Regions from separate parts of the Homo sapiens genome. Here region 2 is linked to region 1. Evidence: fine-mapped expression QTL. Tissue or cell type: whole blood. Region 1 holds a variant in brackets; the other region holds the start of a gene. All regions are shown on one strand. Distances are between the middles of the regions.

Evidence for each region. PIP is the estimated chance that this variant, and not a neighbour inherited with it, causes the effect.
Region 2: it holds the start of RCC2, and the variant in region 1 is fine-mapped to the expression of RCC2 in whole blood (INTERVAL, PIP 0.99).

What each region holds. Positions count from the first base shown.
Region 1 is chr1:17,464,045-17,466,799 of GRCh38, forward strand. No RefSeq gene overlaps it. Among named protein-coding and RNA genes, the nearest start is that of RCC2, 26 kb to the left of the region's middle. The variant T/C (reference allele first, on the strand shown) is at 1,342.
Region 2 is chr1:17,438,208-17,440,962 of GRCh38, forward strand. It overlaps RCC2 (regulator of chromosome condensation 2), which reads right to left and starts at 1,470. Exons shown (of 13, transcript NM_018715.4): 1 at 1,338-1,470; 2 at 23-315. The coding sequence starts at 307. It overlaps LOC124903862 (a long non-coding RNA gene), which reads right to left. Exons shown (of 2, transcript XR_007065508.1): 2 at 1,929-2,755. RefSeq lists silencers at 151-250, 1,570-1,709.

The sequences.
Region 1 (2,755 bases):
AAAAAAAAAAAAGATAAATATTGTGGACACCAAAGTTCTTTTGAAGTCTTATAGTGGCTGCTTTTAGAGACAATAAATGGCAAATGTTTCCTATTCAGATCTTAGTTAATCTCTATAGGATTGTGAGGTTCTGGAAGAAAAAGATCTAGCTATGTTAATAGAGATTCTTTACAGATGCAAATTTTCCCTAGCAAGGAACAGCTTTGTAGGGACATTTCAAAATATGACAAAGAAACATGTTTTGGGGTAAAATATTTTGATGTTCTTCCTTGTCTCATAATGTTATGCCAGAGTCAGTCAGGTTGGAAAGTCAGTCACAATACCTAGGGTTAAATAAAACCCATCTGAAGAGAATTTATGATTTGTAGGGCATGGCTCCCCAGACCCCTTAGATAGGAATTTGGGCAAGATAAAAATCAGAGTTTAGGCCGGGCGCGGTGGCTCACGCCTGTAATCCCAGCACTTTGGGAGGCCGAGGCAAGCAGATCACGAGGTCAGGAGATCGAGACCATCCTGGCTAACATGGTGAAACCCCGTCTCTACTAAAAATACAAAAAATTAGCCGGGCGTGGTGGCGGGCACCTGTAATCCCAGCTACTCGGGAGGCTGAAGCAGGAGAATGGTGTGAACCCAGGAGGTGGAGCTTGCAGTGAGCTGAGATTGTGCCACTGCACTCCAGCCTGGGCGACAGAGCCAGACAACGTCTCAAAAAAAACAAAAACAAAAAATCAGAGTTTAGTCCTCATGCCTCACATATGTGCCCAGGAAGTGGGTACTCCTGAAATCCCCGTTTCACAGATGAGGAAACTATGGTGGAGTATGAGAGGCTTGGCCAGGGACAGTATAAGAACAGGCACAGGCCAGGTGCGGTGGCTCACGCCTGTCATCCCAGCACTTTGGGAAGCCAAGGTGGGTGGATCACCCGAGGTCAGGAGTTCAAGACCAGCTTGGCCAACATGGTGAAACCCTGTCTCTACTAAAAATACAAAAATTAGCTGGGGATGGTGGTGTGCACCTGTAATCCCAGCTACTTGGGAGGCTGAGGCAGGAGAATCGCTTGAACCTGGGAGGTGGAGGTTGCAGTGAGCTGAGATCACAACACTGCACTCAAAAATGGGCAACAAGAGAAAACTCCATCTCAAAAAAAAAAAAAAAAGAGAACAGGCACAGGTAGAGATGATTAAATAGCAGTGAGCGCTCGGAATCTTGAGGAAGAGAGAAGGAAGGTGGGTAGGGCGTGTACCCATCTTAGATTCTTTGGCTGGGACCCTATTCATTAGACTAACAAAAGACAGATTGGCAAGAGAAAAATAAACAGAAGTTGATTATGACACTTGTACA[T/C]GGGAGTACTCAGAGGTAAGTGACTCAAGAGGGTGGTTAGAACTGGGGTTTATGTAGCAACTTAACAAAAGAAGAATACATTTTAGTGAAGTGAAAAGACGAAGGGAAAGCACTAGGGCAGCAAATCGTGAGAGGGTCAATATATGGGGGATGAATGGAAGATGGGAGCTAGGAGTGGAGTCGGTTAAGTCTACTCCTCTGGGCCCCAGGAAGTTTAGGGTCTGGAGGTGTCTCTGGGATCAACTTTTGTCCTTCCTGGTGGTTTTTTTTGCGGGGTGGGCACATTTATAAATTTATGTCTTGCTTTTTGGCAGCTACGGGAAGGGCAGAGAGCTTTTCTTCTTCTTTTTTTTTTTTTTTTTTTTGAGACGGAATCTTGCTCTTGTTGCCCAGGCTGGAGTGCAATGGTGCAATCTCAGCTCACTGCAACCTCCACCTCTCGGGTTCAAGCAGTTCGCCTGCCTCAGCCTCCCGAGTAGCTGGGATTACAGACCTGTGCCACCACGCCCGGCACATATTTGTATTTTTAGTAGAGATGGGTTTTCACCATGTTGGCCAGGCGGGTCTCTAACTCCTGACTTCCTGATCCACCCGCCTCGGCCTCCCAAAGTGCTGGGATTACAGGCGTGAGCCACCACACCTGGCCTGTGCCTGTTCTTATACTGTCCCTGGCCAAGCCTCTCATACATCATGAGCCACTGCGCCTGGCCTGCTTTTCTTTCTTTTTCTTTCTTTCTTTCTTTTTTTTTTTTTTTTTGAGATGAGTTTTGCTCTTGTTGCCCACGCTGGAGTGCAATGGTGCTATCTCGGCTCACTGCAACCTTCTCCTCCAGGGTTCAAGCGATTCTCCTACCTCAGCCTCTCGAGTAGCTGGGATTACAGGCACGTGCCACCACGCCCGGCTAATTTTGTATTTTTAGTAGAGACGGGATTACTCCATGTTGGTCAGGCTGGTCTCAAACTCCTGACCTCAGGTGATCCACCCGCCTTGGTCTCCCAAAGTGCTGGGATTACAGGTGGGAGCCACCGACCCTGGCAGAGAGAGCTTTTCTTCTATCTGCTTCTTCTCAGTTGCTTTCAGCTCAACAGGATCCTCATTGCAAAGTGGCATGTTTTGGGCTATTGTATCTGTCAACCTTCAGAGGAATCTGAGAGGCGGGGCCCAGAACAGGTGGGTGGGATTCGGGAGGGAAAGTGGATTTGCTCAGGTACAGGGGTAGGGAGCGCTGTCCCGTCTTCAAGATGTCATCCCCTGCCTTGCTGGAATCTTCCCCACACTGTTCCTGACTCAGGGGCCCAGTCCAGTCTTTTTTTTTTTTTTCTTTGGGACAGAGTCTTGCTCTGTCACTTAGCCTGGAGTGCAGTGTCATGATCTCCACTTACTGCAACCTCTGCCTCCAAGGTTCAGGCAATT
Region 2 (2,755 bases), 26 kb before region 1:
GTCTACCCTGACCCTCACTCACGACGCGCTCCTTGGTGTGCTCGGGTTCGGTGATGACCACGGCCGCGCCGCCCGCCTTGCCTGCTGTCGCCGGCCGCGCCGCGCGCTTGCCCCCGCCGGGGGCCCCGTCGAGCTCCAGGCCGTCCTCGTCGCCGCTGCTGCCGCCGCCGCTGCTGCTACTGCAGCGCTCGGGCCGCTCGCGCTTCCTGCCCGCCGGGCCGCCGCGTTTCCTGGGCCCGGCGCGGGCAGTGCCGTTGCCCGAGCTCGGCTCCTCCCAGGCCGCCGCCGCCGCCTTCTTCCTGGGCATGGTCGCGGCTGGAGGGAGACACGGGGCAGCGGCGCACAATGGACGGGTTATAAACTGCGCGGGGGGAGGGGAGCGGAGACGAGCCACCCGGCCTCCACTTCCTCCTCTGCCCTCCCCAAAGTGGCGGCCGCAGGGTGGGCGGAGAGGGGGCGAGTTGGGAGAGGAAATCGCGCCCCTCCCTGGCCCCGGCGCGGCTCCTTCGGGGAATCCCGCAGGGCAGCCGGGAGCCCCAGAGGCAATCCCCTGGAGGGAGAATTGAGACCCCCGGCCTATCCGTAAGTTAGGTTTGCCCACAAAGCATCACAGTTGCAACCTCGCCCCCCAAAAGTAAAGGGAAAGTAAAACCAGCCTCCAGTCCCCTAGATTTTCATTAAAGAAGGCTTCGGGACACTTCCAGGATTCCCCCTTGGCACCTGGGTGGTAAGGGAGCCCCTGCTCCCCGGCTACCCCACCTGCTGCTTTTGTCTCCGCAGTCTCCCCCCAAACCCACTCATGGCATTTAATGCAACGCTCTCCCCCACCCCGCATCAGCCCTGGACCCCCGTTCGGCCCCAGCTCAGGGGTGCCGACCTCGGGCTCTAGTTAGCCGAATCCCTACGGCGGACTGCCCCCGGCGACGGGGGAAGAGCCCGAAGAAAGCTGGACCCCAGCCCCAAACACCTGCTCGCACAGACACGAAAAATAAAAACTTTAATGGTGCCCAACTCTCTCCCAGCCCCCTTGCCGGCCGTGCGGCCCGGCCGGTCTCCGATTCGACTGCAAAGTGTCCAGGGCCGCCGCCAGCTCCCCGGCGTCCCTGCGCTCTCCCCTGTCTGCTTTTTTTTTTTTTTTTAATTGATTTTGAACAATGGGATCTCTGTCTGTCTCCGATTAAACCACGTGGATCCGCCTTCCTTCCTCTTTTTATTCCTTCAATCACCCAGCCCCCCTCCCCCAGGTTTTTTTTTAACCTTTTCTCTTTAAAAAAAGGAAAAAAAAAAAAACTTTCCCAGACCCCACAAACTGATCACTGTCGATTTTCAGACCCTACCTGGTTGGAGTGATGAGAAACCGGAGAGAAAAAAGGAAGAGAAGCAACTAAAAGACGGATCGGAGGGCTTTTTTTTTTCCGGCCCAGACGAGGGCTCCAGCCCACTCACCAGATACACTTAAAATGTAAATACGAGCTTCCAGAACAAATGCTACAACACAAAACAGAAACACATGTGCGGCCGCGCGGCAAGCGAGCGCGCGGCGGGGCGGGAGGCGCGGGGCGCGGGGCGCGCGCGCCCCCTGCCGGCCGGCGGACCCGTTGCCGGCGCCCCCGCCCCGCCCGGCCTGGCCCTGCCCTGCCCACCCGAGCCTGCGCCGCGCGCCGCGCGCCTCGCCGCCCGCCTCGGCTCCGCTGCTCCTGCGCCTTTCGCGGGCCCGCGAGCGCGCTTTGGGCCTTCCACGCAGTGCGGCCTGCGCGTCAGGGACTTCTTTGCGGCTTAGGAGGATGTTGGATTGTTTTTCCTGGGCACGTCTAGACAGGTCACATGAGGACACTCGCTGGAAAATAGTTACTTCGCTCACGCAGCAGCCAACAAGGGACGTGCCCTAATTGAGTGATTGGAATGAAAGATGAATACAATTTGAATAATTTTTTCCTGTGCAGAGAGAAGCTGAGTTTTATTTGCCTGTGGATGTGTCCTCAGTATGTAACAAGGTGCTGTGACACGGAAGAATCACATAAAGGTTTGCTGTATTAGTGAATTAATTCATAATTAATTTGAGGGCCGTGGAGGCACTGGAAGCTGGCTTTGAGGGGAACTTTTTCATTTTTTGCCAAATATTTACTGAGCCCCCGGTACATGCAAGACCCACAGTGCCCGGGGCTGCAGAGCCAGTGAACAAGGTTTCCACCCCAGTGGAACGCACAGCCTAACGGAAAGACAGATCAGTAAACAAGTAATTACAACAGTGGTAAGCTTTACAAAGTGATGCCTGTGTAGGAACATTATGGCGAGGGGATTTATCCTAGTCCAGGGCCAGGGAAGGCATTCAGGTGGAAAGTTATGCTGAACAACTTAAAGGATGAATAAGACCCGATGAAAGGGGGCAGGAAAAGTATTCCAGGCCAGGTGGAGTGAACGGGACGCTCCACATTTCGAGATCTTGAGAGACACCTCCTGGGAGGGAAGCTGTCTGGTGGGGCTGGGGTGAGAAGAGCCAAGAGGCTGGGTTCTGAGGAGGTAGGCAGGGGTGCGAGGGCCTGCATAGACCCTAGTGAACCGCAGTGAGGCTTGATCTCGTTCGCGTGTCCTGGGACGGGTGAAAAAAGCCTTGCTTGCTTCCTACCGGTCTCCACCCTCCACCTCTCCACCCCACTTCCATTACGATCTCACCGTCACTTGCTCTCCTCTCAAAGCTTTTCTCCTGCTTCTTTTTTCCTGAGGCGTACCGCACAAGGAAGTTCCTTCTTCAGGC